Linked DNA regions of Homo sapiens. The protein of the gene in region 3 interacts with the protein of the main gene of each other region in a pairwise test. Each region holds a gene or a part of one and is shown on either strand. Other genes may lie near its edges.

Region 1 (6,138 bases), on a different chromosome or scaffold from region 3:
AGAGGTCGCAGTGAGCCGAGATCACACCACTACACTTCAGCCTAGGCGATAGAGTGAGACGACTCCTCAAAAAATAAAAAAATAAATTACTTGAGGCTCAGTGTGGTGGCTCATGTCTATAATCCCAGCACTTTGGGAGGCTGAGGCAGGAGGATTGCTTGAGCCCAGGAGTTCGAGACCAGCCTGGATGACATAGTGAGACCATCTCTACAAAAAATACAAAAATTAGCCAGGCATGGTGGCACACTCCTGTGGTCCCAGCTACTTGGGAGGCTGAGGCAGGAGAATCACTTGAGCCTGGGAGGTGGAGGTTGCGGTGAGCCAAGATCACGCCACTGCACTCCAGCCTGGCTTGGGTGACAGAGTGACACCCTGCCTAAAAAAAAAAAAAAAAATTGGCCTCTATCAGTTCTTGCCGGAGCCTTTGACTTAGCCTTCCTAGAGACGATGTCTCTGTCTCACCTGCCTGCAGGTTTTCAGCAGCTCCCGTGGTAGTTCAGTGACAAGTTACAGCAGCCAGTGTGACTGGGGCCAGCGGGTTCTGGAGGGCTGTCCTGCCTTCAGGTAGCAGCAGTTCTGGGGTGATGGAGAGAGCCCATCAGCCCTCGCCATGCTGGTGGGGGGCCTGGGGCACAGTCCTGGGACCTCACAGGACTGGAGGGGCTGGTGAGTCGGTTACGTGGTGCTCTCGCTGTACAGAGTTAACGTGGAGCCACGTGCAGGTGCCAGGTGTTCTGGAGATTGACAAAAGGCTGATGCATTGAGACGGGAATTTTTCAAGGAGAAGAGGAAGTTTTAAAAAAAATTTTTAAGTTAAGAAAAAAAAAGAAAGAGGTGTCCGTTTTGGCCGGCCTCACGGTTCCTGGTGTCTTCTCAGGGTCTGCCCAGGGAGCCCCGTCACAGTACCCCGGCTACCAGCAAGGCCAAGGCCAGCAGTACGGAAGCTACCGAGCACCGCAGACAGCGCCGTCTGCCCAGCAGCAGCGGCCCTACGGCTATGAACAGGCAAGCTTTCTGGATGTTTCCAGATGTGCCCATCCGCCGCGCCTGTCGAGACATAATGAAGATTTCTCTTATGGCCATGAGGAATAATGAGCTGGAACTAACTGGCTTCCAGGGTTCCTTCCAGAACGTTAAGTCTCTGAGCCTGTAAGGTTTTGCAGAATTGCCTCTGTGTATACGCTCACCTCAGTCATCCAGCTGGCTTTTCATACCCTAAGCTCACCGTTAGATCTGCACGCCTGGTTCTCACATTCATTCACTCTGCCAGTGTTTGTCACGTACTGGGTACGCGTCCGGTCTCTGCTGAGTGCTTGGTGTGTGGCCGCGACACGAACCCTGCACTTTTAGAGCTTATGTCTCGCTACAGAGACATAAGGTGGTCCCACAGGGCCAGACTGTGCTGAGGACAGAGCGGGGGGCCCCAAATGGAGCCCGCCTTCCAGATGGGGGCGCAGGCGACCGCATTTGGCCCGTGTGGGCAATTCCAGGACGAAGACACAGCGGGGAGTGGCTGGCAGCCCCAGGCTCAGCCTAGGGAGGGGGAAGCCCTTTCTGCCCAGGAACAGTGAGCAGGGCTTTGAAGGAGCTGAGGAAAGAGCAGCTTGGAAGATGGAAGAGCGGGAGCTCTCGGGACAGTGAGGAGGCCGGTGTGGCGGGAGGTGACAGGGACAGGTGGGCGTAGGGGCCTCCATAAAGCAGACATCGCTTTCCCTCTGAGTGGGATGGGGCCCCTGGAGGAGGACAGGGTCTGTGTGGTGGGAGCACTGCAGGAGCGAGGGCCTCCTAGAGGAGAATGAGCCAGGCAAGGGAAGAGGGCGTGCCAAGGTCCTGAGGCACCAGGAGGTTTGTCCCAGTGAAGGCAGCCTGAAGGAGGCTCGGTGGCTGGAGCACAGGGCATATGAAGGAGAATGGTCTGGGACATTTTTTGGAGCCTCCTTTGAGAGAGTCCTTAGCAGGAAGTGGCTCTGTGTTGGTGACTCTGAGGTGGCTGGAGGTGTTAGGGACACTTTACACTGCCAGTGAAATTTCAAAGCACTACATCGCTCAAGTTTGTTTTTCTCAGGGAATTGGGTAGGTAAGAGGCCAAAGACTGTTTTTTAAATGCTTCTCGTCCTCCTTCTTCAAGAGGGCAAAGGGTCACCAGGTAGATGTAGAGAAGCCTAAAGACCATGTAACACAGTCTCCCTGCCAGGGCACCGTACTCGGCCATGCCTGGGAAGGGCACGCTGATGAGGCATTTACACAGATGTCAGGAGGGCTCTGGTGTGCTCTCAGGACACTGTGAGGCCACTGTAGCCGACGCAGGGGCCGCCTCTCCCCAGTGTGTGCTGGGCGCTGGTCAGCGGGGAGCAGGCCCCAGCTTGGCCCTCCAGGTTTGCACAGGAGTGTCATGCTGGAGTCTGGAAGGACAGCAGTCTGCATCCTGATGTTAAATTAGAATTATATGTGAATGATTCTGATGAGACGCCATACCTCCTTCATACAGTCCTGAAAATAACTTATTTGGATTTTGTGAAATAAGTGAATGTCCTAACTTAATTATAAGACTGAACCAGAGGACATATAACTTTATACCTACCTATGAAAAGACCGTGACCGGTCGTGGTGGCCCATGCCTGTAATCCCAGCACTTTGGGAGGCCAAGGCAGGAGGATCACTAGAGCCCAGGAGTTTGAGACCAGCCAGGGTAACATAGCAAGACCTGTCTCTACAAAAAATAAAGTAGTCAGGCATGGTGGTGCATGCCTGTAATCCCAGCTACTTGGAAGGCTGAGGCACGAGGATCCCTTGAGCCCAGGAGGTCGAGGCTGTAGTGAGTCGTGATTGCACCATTACACTCCAGCCTGGGCTACAGAGAGCGAGACTTTGTCTTAAAAAAAGGAAAAAGAAAGGCCAGGCGTGGGGGCTTACACCTGTAATTCCAGCACTTTGGGAGGCTGAGGCGGGTAGATCACCTGCAGTCAGGAGTTGGAGAGCAGCCTGGCCAACATGGTGAAACCCCATCTCTGCTAAAAATACAAAAATTAGCCGGGTGCCTGTAAGCCCAGCTATTGGGGAAGCTGAGGTGGGAGAATCGCTTGAACCGGGAAGGCAGAGGTGAGTTGAGATCACGCCACTGCACCCCAGCCTGGGCGACAGAGAGACTCCATCTCAAAAAAAAGAAAAAGACACAGAGCAATGGGGAAGATAGAGAATAGAATTTCACATCTGGGGGGAAATGTGTCCATCTAACTGCAAAATATTAAGATAGCCTTTAGTCAGCATCCAGTGTAGCTGGCCGTGGCGCTTTGGCACAGCACTGCCGGCGCTGGGCGTCTCCTAGGGGCCATTGTGCACACTGTGTTATGTTTGCAGCACCCCTGGCCTCCACCACGATGCCAGTAGCACCCCCATTGCCCAGTCTGACAATTTAAAATGACTCCAGACATTGTCAGATGCCCCAGGGGCAAAACTGTCTCCGTTTGAGAACCACTGGGCTACACTTAAACATGTGCTGAGGCGGCCAGGCGCTGTGGCTCACGCCTATAGCACTTTGGAAAGCAGAGGCGGGCGGGAGCAGATAGAGACGGAGGTTGCAGTGAGCTGAGATCGCGCCATTGTATTCCAGCATGGGCAACAAGAGCGAAACTCTGTCTCAAAAAAAAAAAAAAGGTGCTGAGGCATTGGGGCTGCCAGTGGTTTTATAGGGCTCCAGGGCTGCCATGCCTTCAGCTGAGCAGCTCTGGATTTGAGGCTTTCCGTCTTACCCAATGGTGCAGGAGCAGAAAGACATCAGAACAGACTCCCACTAACTAGAATCATCACAGGCAGCTCTGGGAATGAGAATGTGACGTGTTCGGTCAGGCTGGAACAGCTTTCCTCCCTCCCCCACTTCCTCGCTGGGGGCATTCGGGAAATCTGATCATTAACTAGCTGGGGACACATGGAGAACAGGCATGCAGATGATGATCCGTTGTCTTCCCCTGTGGCAGTCTCCCGAGTGGCTTTCACCACAGGTCCGATGCTCCGTTTTGCTGCCCAAGGAATTCTGCCTTGTGGCCTTGTGGGGCACAGGCTCTCTAGTTTCTCTTCTTCATGTTGTTTTTTGTTGTTGTTTTTGAGATGGAGTCTTGCTCTGTTGCCCAGGCTGGAGTGCAGTGGCACGATCTCGCTCACTGCAGCCTCTGCCTCTCGGGTTCTAGCAATTCTCCTGCCTCAGCATCCGGAGTAGCTGGGATTACAAGCACGTACTATCACACCTGGCTAATTTTTGTATTTTTAGTAGAGACAGGGTTTCGCCATGTTGGCCAGGGTGGTCTCGAGCTCCTGACCTCAGGTGATCCTTCCAAAGTGCTGGGACTGTAATCCTACAGGCATGAGCCACTGTGCCTGGCCTTTTTTTTTTTTTTTTTTTTTAAGACAGGGTCTCACTCTGTCGCCCAGGCTGGAGTGCATTGGCAGGAACATGGCTCACCGCAGCCTCAACCTCCGGGGCATGCGCCACAACATGTGGCTTATTCTTTTTTTTTTTTTTTTTTTTTTTGAGACAAGGTCTCACTCTGTCACCCACACTGGAATACAGTGGCATGATCTCGGTTCACTGCAACCTCCACCTCTCAGGCCCAGTGATTCTCCTGCCTCAGCCTCCCAAGTAGCTGGGATTACAGGCACGTGCCACTACCACCTGGCTAATTTTTTTTTTTGTATTTTTAGTAGAGATGGGGTTTCACCATGTTGGCCAGGCTGGTCTTGAACTCCTGACCTCAAATGATCCACCCACCTCGGCCTCCCAAAGTGCTGGGATTGCAGGCGTGAGCCACTGTGCCTGGCCGAGGCTAATTTTTTCTCTTTTTTTGTAGAGATGGGGTCTTGCTGTACTGCCCAGGCTGGTCTCAAACTCCTGGGCTCAAGCAGTCCTCCTGCCTCGGCCTCCCAAATTCAGATTTGTTTTTGAAACAGGGTCTCACCCAGACTAGAGTGCAGTGGTGCAATCACGGCTCACTGCAGCCTTGACCTCCTGGGCTCAAGCGATCCTCCCACCTCACCCTCCAAGTATCTGGGACTATTGGCACACGCCACCACACCCAGCTAATATTTGGATTTTTGTAGAGATGGAGTCTGGCCATGTTGCCCAGCCTGGGTCTTTAGATTTTTTTTTATAGATTGAAACCCATCACCCTGGTCGTCCCCGCTCCCATTTTCTTACTGTAGCAGGCTCGGGGGCAGATGGTGTTTGCATTGGCTCCCAGTGGGGCCAGCTTGGAGGAGAGCCTTCCTGCATAGCAGGCCCAGCATAAGGCTCTGATGCCAGGCCTGGCACAGGCCCGGCCGCAGCGATGCCAGTGTGTGACTGAACAAATGAACCTTTGGCCCTGTCTACGTTGTTAGCCCCAGGCTTGGCCAGTGGCTTCTGGAAAGTCGTTCGCTGCCCCGCAGAGATGTGAGCAGAGGTTGTTTGCTTGCTGTTGTCCCTCCTACCCCCTGTCCGGGCTGGGGTGGACGTCTGTCTTCCTTTCACTCATTACTATAGGGGTGTAATCTGTGTCTTGATCTCTTTTAGGGCCAGTATGGAAATTACCAGCAGTAAGGGACACACATTCTGGCTGGAGCCCTTGTGGTAGCGTGTTCATCCAGGGGCCGGATGGGCTGGCGGCAGCTCTGGTGAATTGTGACATGTTGGTTACCTGTTCGCCCAGTGCCACGTCTGCATGTGAAGCGTGCTCATTTCATGCTGGGTATGACGCCGAGCGCACACCACTGGCGTGAGACAGCGCTTGGTGGTGTGATACTTTTGGTGCTGTGTATAGTATTGTATGTCGGTACACGGAGAGGTATCCTTTTTTTGTCCCCCGCCCCCTTCTCAATGTTTCTAGCTAGCTTTGGGGGTCATTTTGTCATCAGAGCATTCTGTGCCCAGGGACAGGACAGATCTCGAGGACACCACAGTCCACCTGTTCCCGTCAACAGACGTTAGGTCTCATTTTCCTCCTCATGCAGTGTTGTAGTGTGGGTTGTCAACTTTTCTTTAACTGGCTACGCCACAGCTGGACACACATGCAGCCCCTGGAGGGCAGCCTCTTCCTGTGCCTCGATGGGGTGGGTGGGAGGGCATCTTCTGTGCGTTGGGTCAGTTTCTGTTACGTAACGAAAAGGATA
Region 2 (6,138 bases), on a different chromosome or scaffold from region 3:
TCACTTATCTTTTATTGTTCTTAGAATGGGATTGATGCATTCTGGCCTTCTACATTTTAGGCGGAAATAGAATCCACACACACAAAATATATACGTATAATATGTGTGTGGTTCTGAACCATAGGTGATTTTTGCCACCCGGGGGATATTTGGTAATGTCTGGGAGCACTTCATTGTCATGATAGGGAAGTGCTGTGGCATCTAGTGGGTAAAGGCCAGGGATGCTGCTAAACATGTTACGATGCACTAGACAGTCCCCCACAATAAAAATTATCCAGCTCAAAATGTCAACGGTGTTAAGGTAGAGAAAATCTGATAGATACATAAAATATTTCTATTATTGTTCATATATAAATAATTAGAAATTCCTATTATTTTTTTTCTTCAGAATCATGATTTATTTAGAAATGTGTTTCTTAATGGCTATCTTTTGGTTAGTAGATTTCAGGTAAATTGCATTGTGGTTAGAGGATATGGTCTGTGTGACTCTGATCCTTTGAAATGTGTTAAGGCTTGTTTCATGGTCTTATACATGGTTCATTTTATAAAGGTTGTACGTTTACTTACAAAGAACGTGCCCCTTTGATCAGGTTTGTTAATCATAGTCAATTTTTATACATCTATTTGATTTTTAAAATCTATTCTATCAATTACTGACAATGGTATGTTAAAATCACCCACCGTGGTTAAAAATATTTTATATATTTGAGGCTATGTTCTCAAGTGCATATAAAAATCTTATGTATTTCTTCTGAAGTAAGACTTTGCTCATCATAAGTGCTCATCATAAAGTGACATATATATATATATATACATATACATATATTTGCTGTTAACAAAGTCTCTTCGTTTTTGTCTGAACATATTTTTAATTCACCCCCCTTCTTGAGAGACATTTTCATGTTAAGAAGGTATTAAATTTGAAAGTTACTTTCTCTCAGCACATTGGACATGTTGTCAATATCTCCTGATTTTTTTTCATTGTTTTCTGCCTTTTTGTTGCTGATTAACATTCATTGTGGATGTATCTTAGTGGTCATTTCTTTTTATTTACTCTGAAATGTGTTGGGTTGTTGAATCTGTAGATTGGCATTGTTCATCAAATTGGAAAAGTTGTCAACCGTTATCACTTTAGATATTGTCTTAGCCTTTCAGACCTTTTTATTTACTCTTTTGTGTCTTTTAAGCTCTATATCATATTTTCCATCTCTTTGTCTCTCTAAGATATACTGTGGATAAATTTCTTTGATTCATAATCTAGTTTACTAATTCTCTGTTCAGACGTCTGTAATCTGGTGGTTAAACCACCTACTAAATTTTACATTTCAATTATTATATTTTCAATTTCCAGGCATTCTATTTGGGCCATTTTTCAAATCTGTTTGCTCTTTCTTTATAGTTTCTTATTCCCTGCATGTTTAAGTTTAAAAATGACTGCATTTCTGCATTTTAAAGCTTATTTCTGACAACTTTAGAGCATACAAGCATAGTTATTTATAGTTTGTGCCTGGTAATTTCATTATCTGAATCCTTTCTGGGTCTGTTTATTCTGTTTTGTGGATTCTTTTGATTTTTTTTCTTGGTGCCTTTTTTCATTACGGATTAAGTTATTTACTTTTTTTTTAATTGTAGGCTGCTCATTTTCCTTGGATTTCACTTGTGATAATTCTTTGAGGACTGGAATATAGGTGCAGAAGATACATAAATGTACTTTTCCCAAGTGTTTTGGAATACTACCAGTTTGGGATCATTCTAAATTAAGTTCTTTGCTTGAGATCTTAAGAACTATTCAGTTAATGTGAGTATGGGCTGTAAATTAGTGTGATACTTGTATTAGACTGTGATTCTACATTCTCAGGGATCATTTTTCCTCTATCACCTGCTCAATACTGAAGTTTAAAAAATGCAAGCCTTTTTTTTTTTTTTAGAAAAAAATTCCCTCTCCCTGCGCTGCCTCCTCTGTGTATGCATGTGTAGTGCACAGCTCTTCGGGTGGCCCAGCTTTATGGTGGAAAGATCTTCTGTGAGACTACTCATCCTGAGTAGGCCTGTTCCCTTTTTCCTATGAGGCCATGGAAAGCAAAGTTCAATTTCACCCCATGAGTTAAATATCCTCAGGACAAGAGCTAGCTGCTGCACTCTCCTTATCTTTTTGAGTTCTTATCTACATTTAGTTATTGGTCTTAAGAATGTCTTACATTCTTACTAGCTCATCACTATATTGCAGGTTTAAAAAATACTTAATCAAGGATTTATGGTTGTTTTGATGGATGGTCAGTATAGATATGTAGCCTGTCCATTGCTGAAACAGAAGTCTATTCATATATTCTGAAAAGACAGATAAGTCTGCCAAAGAAGTTGACATCATCATAAATGATATGGCATACTTGAAATAGTATTCAAATATAGTCTGAATGGTTATGCACTCAGGTAGTTGGTAATATGGATATATTTTGTATTTTTCTTTTCAATTTTTAAATTAAAGTTTAAATTAAAATTGTCTAAGTATAAATGCAGTATTTCTTATAAAAGGTGTTCTTCCATACTTACAATGTAGTCTTTCACTGAGATCATTAAGGGACTCTAGGATCTTCTGTTCTTCAGCTGACAGTGTGCAGATGTTGAATTGTTGAGTTTTATTTAAAGGTAGATTTGATTTCTGTATCTGTTTGCTATTCAAGACAGTCAGAATCTCATCCTCCGGCACTGATGCTTTCACTAAGTTTTCAGCCATCAAAAACTCAGAAGTACTATCTGAAACTACAGAAACTTACATCAGTTATTCTTTGAACCCCTTTTGTCTTTGAGATCAGCCCTTATATATACTTACATATACTTATACATGCTTAACTGTCTGTATGTATTCATATTACAAGCAGAAACCTAGCAAATATCTGCTACTTTGATTTCATTTATCAGGATCCTCTATCTAGCATTTTCCTATCCTTCGTTTTTTAAAAAAGGATATTCAAAATGACGGCAGTGAGTTAATAAAAATTCCCAGAGTATTACTTGAACTAAAGAAAAAAACTATATAATGCAGATAGTTTTTGTCATGTTTGTTATTCATTGGTAGTACAAAAAAGATGAAGAAGACTGTCTTTATAATAGTAGTTATAATGAATTATAACAAAGTAAGACCAAAAAACCCTTAAGATTAGAAACTTTGATGATCAGCTAAACAGAACTGACAGCCTAGAAACAGACCCAATTAGATATAAGAACATGTGATCAAAGAAGCATCAAATATTTGACAGAAGGGAAAGATGATTTTACATATTAGTTTTTGCTTATAAAAGAATCAATTTGGGCTGGGTGCAGTGGCTCATGCCTCTAATCCCAGCACCTTGGAAGGCTGAGGCAGGTGAATCACTTGAGGTCAGGAGTTCAAGACCAGCATGGCCAACATGGTGAAACCTCGTCTGTACTAAAAATACAAAAATTAGCCAGGTGTTATTGTGGGTGCTTATAATCCCAGCTACTTGGGAGGCTCAGGCAGGAGAATCACTTGAACCCAGGAGGTGGAGGTTGCAGTGAGCTGAGATTGTGCTACTGTGCTCCAGCCTGGAGCTCTGTCTCAAAAAAAAAAAAAAAAAAAAGAAATCAATTCAGAGTTTTACTTCCCACTGTTTGTTTAAACAAATTCGTAAGAAATTAAAGACAAACTTAAGGAATCAACCCATTAATTAAAGCAGAAGAAAATGAAACAAATGTTTCTAAATGTCTGTATTGGGAAGGTTCTTTGACAAAGCTTAAAAGTAATGGAGACATCAGTAAGAAAAGACTAAATAAAACATGTTTATTTAAAGCCAGTCTTCCCTAATAGACTTTACACTTCTGAAGAGCAACACTTTTGTATATTTTTTTCATTATTGTAAATGTTAAGTATTCCTTGTCCAAAATGCTTGGGACTAGATATGTTTCAGGTTTTGGACTTTTTTAGAATTTTGGATATTTGCATACACATGAGATATGTTGGTGATGAGACCTAGGTTTAAACATGAAACTCAGCTGGATGCGGTGGCTCATGCCTGTAATCCCAGCATTTTGGGAGGCCGAAGTGGGTGGATCACCTGAGGTCAGGAGTTCAAGACCAGCCTGGCCAACATGGTGAAGCCTCATCTCAACTAAAAATACAAAAATTACCCAGGTATGGTGGCATACGCCTGTCATCCCAGCTACTTGGGAGGCTGATGCAGGAGAATTGCTTGAACTTGAGAGGCGGAGGTTGCAATGAACCAAGATTGCACCATTGCACTTCAGCCTAGGTGACAGAGTGAGACTCTGCTTAAAAAAAAAAAAAAAGAAACTCATTTATGTTTCATATATACCTTATACACATACCTGAAGGTAATTTTATATAATATTTTAAATAATTTTGTCCATGAAATGAAGTTGGTGTATATTGAACCATCAGAAAGCAAAGATATCACTGTATCAGCAACCTATGTGGATTATCTGTGGTTGTTTGGTATCACTGTTATTCCTGACTCCAAATTTATATCTACTGAAAAGCAATAATGTTCTTACACCTATTCACACGTAAGTACTTAACAGTAAAAAATAAGATGTATCCTTCACACTGTCAGAAAATAATGTGTTCAGGGCAACTAAGCACCACAGTAACATCACCAGAATACCTGTGTCGGCTGTTCAACAACAGCAACAAGGAACAATGGCAGGCTTCCAATCTTAGGTATTATGTTACATTTTGACCAGATGGTTACTGTACACTGTATTTTATTTTTTTAGGTGAGAAGAAACATCAGAAGCAGCTGAGGCACAAGGAAGTGGGTCCTCTAGGGATGAGGAAATATTCTGCTAGATGACCTTAAAAAATGTTTCTTCCAGAGACTTTTGCCTCATTTACAATGTCTTTTTTTGTCCTATAAGCCTCTCTTTGATTTTATAAACTGACATAATTTCTTGTTGTTATGAGTGTACACTGCTCTAGTCGTTCAATAAACCCATCACACATTTTCATCATATTGTCAATTGGCACCTTTTTCTTTTTCAGTGTTAACAATGCCATTATCATCACTATTATCACAATCATCTTAATTCAGAGCTCTTTTGGCTATTTCATCATTGGTCAATGAAAACACCTGGAGTCTTATTATCGATGTTAATAACCTCTTTGATATCCACTTCTTCCAGCTTACTGATAGACTCTGAAGGTATATTTTTTTGCTTACGTAATGAGGTCAGACATAATTTTTTCTCACTTGACATACAGAATCCTTCAGTCACTACCTTGTTCATCATCACTGAACATAGTTGCAGGCCAGAGGTTGTGCCAGGAATGCACAATTGTGTCTTTAGTCCCTGTGTTCCAAGTGTTTGCAACAGCATGTATGGCATCTTTCATGCTAAACTCGTTTTGAAAACCTTCTACATCCACATCTCTGTTCACTGTTGCTGGCATGCTGTTCAAGAAAGTGTTTATATGTATTTACTCTTCATCTACCTAACGATAGTCTGGTCACACAGCTGAATTAATGAAGTAATATTTGGGGGAAAGCACGTGGCATAAAGATTATTTTTGATGAGAATTTCAGCTGGAGGATGAAAAGAACAGTTGTCAAAGAATAACAAAATCTTGCAGTCATCATTCAATCCAGCTTCCCTGATATAAAGTGTTTGTGAAACCAATCAGAAAAGATGTCCCTGGTGATCCATGTCCTTTTGTTAGCACATTAATGGACTGGTAAGAAATTCACTCCTTGAAATCAGTGAGGACACAAGCTTTTGCCTATCATAGCAAATTTACACTTGGGCGTGACTGAGTCATTAGCACATCCTAGCAGTTATTCTGTTATTCTTAATTCTTGTAGGGGCTGTCTCATCAGCTATAGTCAATGTTTTTTTGAGTAACAACACCAAACCAGTGATGTTCATCAGTAACATATACTTCTTCTGGTGTCAGATATTCATCAGCGATGACCTTGGCAAACTCTTCAATGAATTTCTCTGCTGCTTTGTAATCAGCAGACGCTTGATCACCACAAATCTTTAAAAATAATGCTGTGTCTTAAATTTCTATAACCAGCCTGTTGAATATTCATGGTTCTCTTCAATTTTCAGTTCATCATGATAGATCTTTGCTTGTTTCATGATCAGCATACCATTAAGTGGCAT
Region 3 (6,138 bases):
CAACACTTTGGGAGGCTAAGGCAGGCGGATTACCTTAGGTCAGTCAGGAGTTCGAGACCAGCCTGGCCAACGTGACGAAACCCCATCTCCACTAAAAACACAAAAATTAGTTGGGCGTGGTGACGTGCACCTGTAATTCCGGCTATTCGGGAGGCTGAGGCAGGAGAATCGCTTGAACCCAGGGGGCAGAGGTTGCAGTGAGCGTAGATCACGCCACTGCACTCCAGCCTGGGCGACACAGCAAGACTCCATCTCAAAAAGAAGAAAAAAAAAAAAACTGTTTCCAGATATAGTAATGTCCATTTCTGTAGAGGAGAATCCCTCCTGCCTGTCAGCCTGCACCAGGAAGGGCTCTGTTGTGAGCTGCCAGCTACAATCTGCACTAAAACCCAGAAAACCAACAAAGTCACAGGAGGGCAGGAATGAGTCAGTGTCTGAAACGGCATTCAGGTCTGTTCCTCATACAGGAGAGCAGGCGCTCCTGCAGGCTGCGTCCACCCAGGTGCCCTCCCGAGCTCCCAGGCACTGGCTGGACCTGCCCTGCAGCTCCTCCTTCCAATGTGTCGTCCTGGCGCTTCCTTCCCGAGTGCCCGCCACTCCAGACCCGATGCAGGTCAAGCACAGGGAGCTGCCACCTGTGGCCTCATGGCCCCTGCCATGCCTCCCAGTGCCACCCGCAGCAGCCAACTCATGCACCCACACTGCCCGGGAGGCACCCACACAGGGCCTCCCGGTGCCACCCGCAGCAGCCAACTCATGCACCCACACCGCCCGGGAGGTACCCACACAGGGCTCTCCCCACTGGGCACTGAGCCAGTGTCTCCTGCTTCAATCCATGCCAGATACAAACTTTTATAAAAAATTAACAGCCAGAAACATGGAGGAAAAAAAGACTTAAAAACACAAGCCAAAGGGGGCCGCGGCCGGTGGCTCTAATCCGTAACCCTAGCACTTTGGGAGGCTGAGGACCACTTGGGCCCAGGAGTTCAAGGATGCAGTGACCTAGGATTGCGCCACTTCACTCCTGCCTGGGCAACAGAGCAAGACCCCGCCTCAATTAAAAGAACAAAACAAAACCTCTGCAGGTACCCACTAGGTGACAGCTGGGATCCTCACAGGGCCTACCTAGTGGACTCAACGCCCCCAAGACAGAACAGCTTCCCCACCCTCTGAGGACGGCTGTGCAGGTCAACAGCCTGGGGCTGCAGCAAGTGCTCAAGGGAGACAACGCCTCCCGACAGTGACCCCAGAAAAAGTTCCAGAATAGTGACATCTTTATTCCAGAGTCAACATACTACCCTCCAGCATTAGACTACAGACTAAGGCTGGGGCTGGGCGAGGTGGCTCACACCTGTAATCTCAACACTTTGGGAGGCCTAGGCAGGAGGATTGCTTAAGCCCAGGAATTCAAGATCAGCCTGGACAACATAGTGAGACCCTGTCTCTATAAAATAGACTAGGGCCAGGTGGCCTCCAACACTGCAGGAAGTGAGTCCAGGTAGGAAAAAAGTGCCTTCCGAATTCTGGGGCCCAAGGTGCCTACCCTGCAGGGAATAGTAAACAGACACTCTCTGGACTGCGGGGGCCAAGGCCCGCCACCCAAGGCCCTTAGCAGCCGGCATATACCACCTGTGGGTGACCTTGTCTACACAGGACTTTGCTATCCATCCGCCAGGACCTGAGGGAAGAGAACTGCCGGACCCCATTCCTGCCCCTTCTGCCACCATTTCAGACACCCCACAGGGACTCATTTTGGGGGTTCCCAAATGAGTTCCCACTGACTTCCAGGAAATCCATAAGCTGCTCTATGACCCCAGCTTGGGTGACCATCTCTCCTTGCCACGCTGACCCTTTTCCCCTGACCTCACAGTGCCTCAAGCTCCAGGAATGGCTCAGAAGGGGTGCAGAGCCAGTGGTGATGGCACGGTGGGTCAAGGAGTCACCCCTGGAGGTGATGTGTCTGGCAGAGGCCTTGGGGAGCTCAAAAGGATGGCACTGGGGGTGCATGACTGTTCATGAAGCCAAAGAGAAATAAAAAGAGGCAGCAGAAGGAACTTTCTTCATGTGAGATAGTTCAAGTTCAGACTTCCTGCTAACAACATCTATTAGGACATGGGCTGGACCAACTCATCTTCCTATGGAATACCAAGACAGGAGATCCAGACAAACTCCATCATGTGCACCAAGCCCAAGCTCAAACAATCAGCTGGTGCAGCATGTCTGCTGAATGACTGTGCTGTGATGGGCTAGGACCAGCAGGCGGCCCAGGGGCCCTAGACTGCTCTGTTCACCTCCATCCAACCACATCGCTCTGCACACCAGGCACCATCTCTGTAGGCTCACCACTAACAAAGGGACCGGTACCATCTGAGGACTGCCTTTACCAACAAGACTAAAAGATTTCTTGGAAGAATATCAATTCCAGGGGTCAATGTTTCTCTTTCTCTAAACATGCCTCACATAGAGGATCTCCAGATGCAGCTGCGTCAAAGACAACCAAAATTCAAGAGACTGCTCTGGATAACCATGCAAAACCCCTTAGAGACAGGGTCTCACTCTGTCACCCAGGCTGGAATACAAAGGTGCGATCACAACTCACTGCAGCCTCGACCTCCTGGGCTCAAGCAATCCACCCACCTCAGCCTTCCAGTGTTAGGATTACTAGCCTGAGCCACCGCACCCAGTCAACTTTTCTAACAGCTCAAGTCACTCTAATTTAAATGCATGAGGAGAATATCTAGGTATTTAAAGTTCGCCACGTATTTTCACCTGAGTGATGCTTCCCTTCCTAAGGCTGACCAAGACCAGTTCATCCTTTTAAACTCAAAATAAAATGACACCAGTGAAGGCGGGAGGAGCACCCTATCAGGGTGAAGGCGGGAGGAAAACCTCATTCGAATGAAGGTAGGAGGAGCACCCATCACAAAGCCTTGCCTATCTGAGGTTCTTGTCCGTGAGGCTGAAGTCCAGGCTCTCGTAGTAGAGGAGCTCCTCCTAGAAGATCTGAAGCAGTCAAAGGAACCAAACCGACACAGGCCGTCTGCCTGCTGATCACAGTCTCTTTTAAGACACTTTCTACTTTGCATTCTGATGAACCTAGGAGTTTTGTTAAACAGATTATGCGTGTATTTATCCCTCATTTCATGCAATAACCAAAAAGAGTTATCAGGAAACCCTGTTTGTCTTTTCACCCCATGTATGAACTCTCATGTGAATGAGTCCTGCAGTAATCCATGTTAAGGGAGCCCTAATTTCAAACTGGTGCAAATGGAAAAGACTTTCCCTTTTCCTTTAAGACTAAAGACAAAATGTCCTCCTGGCCGGGCTCGGTGGCTCACGCCTCTAATCCTAGCACTTTGGGAGGCAGAGGCAGATGGATCACGAGGTCAGGAAATCAAGACCATCCTGGCTAACATGGTGAAACCCCGTCTCTACTAAAAATACAAAAAATTAGCAGGTGTGGTGGTGGGCGCCTGTGGTCCCAGCTACTCAGGAGGCTGAGGCAGGAGAATGGCGTGAACCCGGGAGGTGGAGCTTGTAGTGAGCCGAGATCGTGCCACTGCGCTCCAGCCTAGGTGACAGAGCAAGACTCCGTCTCAAAAAAAAAATGTCATTCTATACAGGTGCAACTCAATCCGTTAATAAAAACTGATGTATGCTGGAGAGAGGAAGTGAAAAGAAAAAATAGGGCTGGGTGCGGTGGTTCACGCCTGTAATCTCAGCACTCTGGGAGGCCAAGGCAGGCAGATCACCTGAAGTCACGAGTTTGAGACCATCCTGGACAACATGGTGAAACCCCATCTCTACAAAAAAAATACAAAAATTAGCCAGACACCGTGGCACACACCTGTAGTCCCAGCTACTCGGGAGGCTGAGGAACGAGGATCGCTTGAACCTGGGAGGTGGAGGCTGCAGTGAGCCGAGATTATGCCATTGCACTCCAGCCTGGGCAACAGAGCGAGGCTTCATCTCAGGAAAAAAAAGAAGAACAGAAAAGAAAAAATAACAATAAATCAATGTAAGGCCAGGCATGGTGGCTCACGCCTGTAATCTCAGCACTTTGGGAGGCCGAGGCAGGCAGATTGCTTGACCCCATCTCACCAAAAAATAAAAACATTAGCAGGGCATGGTGGCACATGCCTGTGGTCCCAGCTACTCAAGAGGCTGAGGTGGGGGAGTCGCTTGAGCCCAGGAGGTCGAGGCTGTAGTGAGCCATAACCATGCCACTGCACCCGTCTGAGCAGAAGAGCAGGACTCTGTTCAGGAGATTCTCCTGCCTCAGCCTCCTGAATAGCTGGGATTACAGGCGCGCACCACCACGCCTGGCTAATTTTTATATTTTTAGTACAGATGGGTTTTCACCATGTTAGCCAGGCTGGTCTCGAACTCCTGACCTCGTGATCTACCCACCTCGGCCTCCCAAAGTGCTGGCATTACAGGTGTGAGCCACACACCCAGCCCTGCCTGTTTTTCAAAGTGTTTATTTACCGCTGTTATTATTTAATCATAGTATATCAAACTTACAAAAAAACAGATTATAACCTTAAAACTATCTCTTTTAGCCTGGCGCAGTGGCTCACGCCTGTAATCCCAGCACTTTGGGAGTTCGAGGCGGGTGGATCACCTGAGGTCAGCAGTTCAAGACCAGCCTGGCCAACATGGTGAAACCCCGTCTCTACTAAAAATACAAAAATCGGCCGGGTGTGGTGGCAGGTGCCTGTAATCCTAGCTACTCAGGAGGCTGAGGCAGGAGAATCACTTGAACCCAGGAGGTGGAGGTTGCAGTGAGCCAAGATCACCGCACTGCACTGCAGCCTGGGCAACAAAGCAAGACTCCACCTCAAAAAAAAGGGGGGAAAAAAAAGAACTATCTTTTTTACTTGAAATTTTAATTTTTTAAACCACTAGAATTATAAAAGCAGTCCGTCCCTGAAGGCAGATTCTGTTCTGTCCACAGGGAATAAGGAAGATCCTCTTTCTCTAAAATCTCTAAAACGCTGCTCAGATGGGGTCTCATCTCCCTTCCAGCGTGACTGGCTGGCCTGAAGCATAACATCCTCAGATGCTCTAGGTGGGTCCTACACCGGAGCCATTGGTTAGTGCACACCATAACCAACTAGACTCAGCATCCCCGCCCACGGCTGCACATCAAGAAGCTTCACCATGGGCCAGGCACAGTGGCTCGTGCCTGTATTCCCAGCTGAGGCTGGGAGGAGGCTGAGGCGGGAAGATCGCTTGAGTCCAAGAGTTTGAGGCTACTGTAAGCCATGATCACGCCACTGCACTCCAACGTGGGCAACAGAACAAGACCCTGTCTCTAAACATAAAATAAAAAATAAGAAGCTTCACCCTCATCTACACAGAATTCAAATGCACAGCTGAGGCCTCCTACATGCACCCAGGGGTAGTGCCCAGGGCCTAAGAACAGGGCTGCCAGATCAGCTGCCTCTCAGACCACAGCAAGGCAGTAAACCCGGTTTCAGGCAGCAGTCAGTACTGTATTGAGAGCCTGCCCCTCACAACCACCCCAGAGGTGGGTCCAGCACCATGGTGCCAACAGGCCAGGCGCACTGGGAGCTCCTCCACTGGTGGCAAGGTGGCCTGAAGCACCAGCATCTCCTGGAGACTGGGAAACCCAGACTGCAGAGACCGCGGCCAGGAACACTCGTCCAGGTTTGTTTCTCTCTCTCTACTCGAAGCTGAAATAATAGTTTATTCCCAAGTTAGGAAAAGAACAGAACCACACAGTACGCGGTTTAGCTCCAATACATGCTTTCAAATATTTAGGTCGAGTTTTCTTCTCAATCAGCCCTGGCCACTTCAGCCCCCATGTCCTGCATGCAAACACTGCCTCCTTCAGTCCTGCCTACCCAACATCAGGAGCCAAAGAACAGAGAGCGTGCGGCCCGGCCAGGCCCGGCCTCTCCCAGAGCAGGTCATCATCTGGTACTGGCCAGGGAAGGGAGCACTTCAGACTTTTGGCTCTTCATTTTGTTAGATCACATTTTGTTTATTTTGCTTCAATTTCAGTAAAGCTGAAATTTTTAGACCTCTTATACAGAAGCTCTTAATACAAACCCTAGACTTTTTGACTCATAGGTAGAAATCCAAGCAAAACCATCTCTTCAAAGTCAGATT
Region 4 (4,817 bases), on a different chromosome or scaffold from region 3:
CCTCCCGTCCCCACAGCCTCGTCATGCCCTCTACTGCACAAAGACCCTCAGGGCCTCCGCCTCTCCCCTGACTGCGCTCTCAGTGACACCAGCCCTTCACCTGCTGCTTTCTACCTGGAGGCGCTTATTGCCCTGGGTCACAAACCTCAGGGCAGGGGCCACATTGGGGTCCCACTGACCAGGGCTGACCCCAGACCTCTCTTCACACAGCCAGCTGGAGGCCCCTCATTCAACTCCTAGTCACAGTGGCTGCCCTATGTCCCGCTCAGCACCACGTACACACTGCGCTCCACCCAAGTCCACATCATTCTGGGCAAGTCAGCGTCCAACAGCCTGGCCCTCCAGCCCCAGACCTTGTCCTCCTTGGTGACAGCCTTCACCCAAGGGCTCTCTCATGCTCTCCAGGGCCACCTACTAGAACTGCCCCACCTACAGCTGCCCCACTCCTCCTCACTCAGGCCACTGTCAGCTCACTCTGTACAAATGTGAGCCCCCGACCCAAACACTCTACAGGCTCCTTAATGGCCCCTCCTGCCTTTGTTTCTTCCCTACACACTTGTGCTTTAAGCAATCACCTAACTCCCCCTGCCCCGTTATCGCAGTGCTGCATGCGTGCACATGCATACACACACACACACACACACACGCATACACACAAGCACATGCACGCACACGCGCGCGCGCGCACACACACACACACACACACACACACACACACCAAAATCCTCCCTTGCTTCAGTGCCATGCACAAGGTCCAGAGGGAATGTAGACACTTGGGAACGACCTCTGAAAATAACACCCATTGCCCCAAACATCCTCGACTTCCTCAACTGGGTCCTTGAGACACTCAACAACCACCTGTGTGGCTCCGCCAGGACCAACCTCACTTCGAACCCGCTGCTCTGTCAGTACCAGGAAGTCCAGGCTCCCGTCCCTCGTCTCTCACGCTCCCAGCACACCCTCACTGTGGCCCACGATCCACCTCCTCAACACCTGCGCCCCTGTGCCTGCCGTGATCGGCAGGCCCTCTCTGTCCCGCCTTGCTCTCCAGGACACAGCTTCCCCACAGCCCTCAGCTGCAGCTGCTGCTCCTCCCACCGGCCTCTTGTCACGGGCCCAGAGGGAAGGTCAGTAATTTCCTTATGCTTGCTTCGGCTTCCAGATCACTCTCCCTAAAAACTGCCAACTTTAAATCTTGTCACCCTCGACCCCATCATTGCTGCCATCAGCTGCCAACCCATGGTCCCACCCAGTCCTCCTGGACCCGCCACTCTCACCAACGGTGCTCCTGTCTTACTTGTGATTTCAAGTATTGAGAAATGATCCTTCCAAAATCCTGGCCTTGGGTCCCTGAACCCTGCTGGGATGATCCCACCTCCCACACTCGACGCCCACTCCCAGGGGCACCCCTGTCACTACCACTAACAGCAAGCTCCAACCTCAAATCCAAGCGCCCCACTCCTTTACCACCACTATCTATATTCCCAGCTCACCGCCCTAGGACCTGACTCCAACAATCCTTCTATCCATCCGGCACCTTCAGCCTCTCAATCCTAATGCCTCCTCCTGACCTTCACCCCGAGGGCTCCTCCCTCACTCACTGGCATAAATCCCACATTGGTCATGACCGTGGCGCTTCCACATACTCCTACTCCTTCCCTTCTCTCTCGGTGCACTTGCTTGGCACAGCCGAGCCCTGTTTAATACAGCCTGTGCCCCCCAGTGCCTGTAGGTGTAGCCAACTGCAGCTGCAGAACAGGCCCCGCCACACCATCTTCTGTCTCTTTACGCCCAAGTCCACCAGATGCTGCCCTGAAGTCAGCTGTCAGCCACGGCCTCCGCCCAGGCACTATGGGCAGGCAGCCCATCCTCCTTTGTGGTGGAGACTGTCCTGTGCATTGTAGGAGGTTCAGCAACTGCCCTGCCCTAACCCCTCCCCTTCATCAGAACACCAGAAAATGTCTCCAGATCATGGCCCAGTGTCCCCAAAGTAGGATCACCCCTAGAGGAAAACCTCTGCTCCAGTCTCTTCACTAGCCCACTCTCGTGCACAGCGACTTCACCCAGCCCCTCTCTCCTCTGACACTCCTCTTCCCCCAGACCCTCTTACGGCTCATGAGAAAAATAAGTACCAGAAAATCACCTTAAGAATCTGCATCACACCATGTGCCGACTCCACCTCCGCGCCCGTTCCCACACCCACACGGGGACTCTGCTCCACCAAACCCCTGTCCCACGTCGCCTACGTCATCAATTTCCCCTTTCCACTGGATCATTCCCGTCATTAGAAAAATAATAACTCCCCTTGACACCACCTTTCCCACTTTCTAGTCTTATTCCTTCCCTTCTCTTTGTGGCAAAACTCCTAGAAAAACACATCTACTCCTGCCTCCAATCCCTGCCTCTTATTTGATCTGAAACCCACTCTGATCCATCCTATCTGTTGTTTGTCTTTATATTGCTTATGACTTTATTTTTTTTTTTGAGATAGTCTCACTCTGTCGCCCAGGCTGGAGTACAGCAGTGCAATCTCAGCTCATTATAACCTCCACCTCCCAGGTTCAAGTGATTCTTCTGCCTCAGCCTCCTGAGTAGCTGGGACTACAGGCACACGCCACCACGCCCAGCTAACTTTTGTATTTTTAGTAGAGACGGGGGTTTCACCACATTGGCCAGGCTGGTCTCAAACTCCTGACCTCAAGCCATCCGCCCGCCTCGGCCTCCCAAAATGTTGGGATTACAGGCGTGAACCACCAGGCCCAGCCTGCTTATAACATTTTGATCACCTTCTATTTTTAATTTTTCTGCAATTAAGCCCCTAATTTTTTTCCCCTATTTTTTCCTAATTCCCCTATTGTTTTCACGCTTAGAAAGTCTTCAATCTAGGGGTCAGAGAAATGCAGTCCAACATTTTCCCATAGATGTGAAGATGTATTTTACATGTATGCATGGTTTTTCTCTTTCATCCATCTGACATGTCTGTTGGCCTATGGTGTGAGGCGAGGGCCTACCCTCACTTTTTGTTCCTCAATAGCATGTTTCCAGCACCATGTGCTGCTTCCCTCCCCCTTCTCTTAGCGGAGGCACCATGCCCACTGGAGAACACACTGTGTGGCTGGAACTGCCCTGCTGAGCCAGCCTTACCTATCCATTTGTAGCGCCTCCATGCTGTCTTGCCGTTTGACCCGGGGAGGGGCTGGTCTTGCACTCCCAGGCCGAGGAATTCTTCTAAACCCAAATATTGGAAAACCAAAAAAGGAGTATGAAAGGCTTATACATTTCAAACTGGAAAAGAAAGCCCAGGTGAATGTTAACTCTCATCTCCAAGCCATAATCAATGTGCTGGTTAGGACACGCTACTCTGCAGAAGAGGAGGAACGTCCCAGTAACCCGACCAATCAGAAAGTGTCCATCTTTCCACTTGTATTTTCAGTAATTTCAAAATACCAACAACTGTCACTAATCAAAACATCACATAATTCAGCTATAATTTTGAATTCCCCTAAATCTCCAAAATATTATATCACTATATAGTGATATAACTCCAGTACAGAAAACTGATATACTTCTTGTATTCTTTGTATAAGTAATTCCTCATAAGTTAGCTCAAGCACTAAATAAATAGCAGCAGCCAGAAAGAGAAGCACAGCAGTGTCCTAGGTGTGATCACTCTGCTGAGGGAAAGGGATTCAAAGCACACAGACCTGATGTTGGATGAAAGCTCATTAGGAATTTCTGGAGTCTCTGGCACCTCAGACTTATCTTGGCCAGCAGGTCCAGCATCTCCTTCTAAACAAATGACAATCAATTAGCAATTCACAAAGGAAAACACACATAGATAACTATTTGAAAATACTATTTGCATCTGTATTTGCAGTTATTTGCAATCAAATACATTTGTAATTGCAAATACAAATGAGCAATTTTTCCATCAATCATGTTGATGAAGAGAAAATCGATGTCTGATATCTAAACTCAGTGAAGATTTGGGAAAATGGGCACACTCAAACCCAGGGAATACAAACTGGTTCAACTACTTCAGAAATAAAATTCAAAAGGCAGGCTGATCAACTGAGCACTTAAAGGAAATACAACCCAAGAGGAGAAATGGACACATGTCAAGATGTTCACCCATCGTCACTGGTAATACTGACAATCAATCAGTAACTAAGTAAATTATGGTACAGTCACATGTCAGCTCCCTTTTGTGTGAAACAATCCAGTACAGTAATATATCTAACAATTATATACATATGCATATATATATATACAGGGTTCTAGAAGAATATTCATTTAAGTTATAAGCAGTAGAATTACCAGTGCTTTTAATTTTTGTTCTTTTTTTTTTGCATTTTTAAATTTTTCTACATTGGTATACCATATTATGTTTATAATCTGAACAAAGTTTTCTTCATTTTGATAAAAAGAATTAATCAGTAAATAACAAGGCCTAAACTATTAAGACAAGTTTACTCCACTATTTAAAGTAAAAGGAATTAACACTTCAGAAAATAGTCAGAATTTGAATATTAGAAATATACTTTATATTCTGGAAAAAAATCCTGAAATGTATTGTTTTCAAACTTAAAACATATAAATTAAATTTCAAATTAAATTAGGGTAGTTGGCCAGGCGCAGTAACTCACACCTGTAATCCCAGAACTTTGGGAGGCCGAGGCAGGTGGATCACCTGAGGTCAGGAGTTCGAGACCAGCTTGACCAACATGGAGAAACCCCGTCTCTACTAAAAATACAAAATTAGCCGGGCGTGGTGGTGCATGCCTGTAATCCCAGCTACTCAGGAGGCTGAGGCAGGA

What was found.
Region 1: the proteins of BRD1 (region 3) and SS18L1 interact in a two-hybrid assay, tested with the Homo sapiens proteins (one large-scale study listed by BioGRID and IntAct).
Region 2: the proteins of BRD1 (region 3) and CEP126 interact in a two-hybrid assay, tested with the Homo sapiens proteins (one large-scale study listed by BioGRID and IntAct).
Region 4: the proteins of BRD1 (region 3) and TRAF3IP1 interact in a two-hybrid assay, tested with the Homo sapiens proteins (one large-scale study listed by IntAct).

The regions. Positions count from the first base shown.
Region 1 is NC_000020.11:62,173,640-62,179,777, forward strand, and holds part of SS18L1 (calcium-responsive transactivator), read left to right. Parts: intron 1-877; coding exon 878-1,005; coding exon of another isoform or gene 1,006-1,092; exon of another isoform or gene 1,093-2,679; intron 2,680-5,542; coding exon 5,543-5,569; 3' UTR 5,570-6,138. UniProt on the Homo sapiens protein: Transcriptional activator which is required for calcium-dependent dendritic growth and branching in cortical neurons. Recruits CREB-binding protein (CREBBP) to nuclear bodies.
Region 2 is NC_000011.10:101,983,454-101,989,591, reverse strand, and holds part of CEP126 (centrosomal protein of 126 kDa), read right to left. Parts: intron 2,761-6,138; coding exon 2,551-2,760; intron 1-2,550. UniProt on the Homo sapiens protein: Participates in cytokinesis. Necessary for microtubules and mitotic spindle organization. Involved in primary cilium formation.
Region 3 is NC_000022.11:49,815,288-49,821,425, forward strand, and holds part of BRD1 (bromodomain-containing protein 1), read right to left. Parts: intron 5,700-6,138; exon of another isoform or gene 5,547-5,699; intron 3,097-5,546; coding exon of another isoform or gene 2,935-3,096; intron 1-2,934. UniProt on the Homo sapiens protein: Scaffold subunit of various histone acetyltransferase (HAT) complexes, such as the MOZ/MORF and HBO1 complexes, that acts as a regulator of hematopoiesis.
Region 4 is NC_000002.12:238,347,736-238,352,552, reverse strand, and holds part of TRAF3IP1 (TRAF3-interacting protein 1), read right to left. Parts: intron 3,790-4,817; coding exon 3,705-3,789; intron 3,229-3,704; coding exon 3,145-3,228; intron 1-3,144.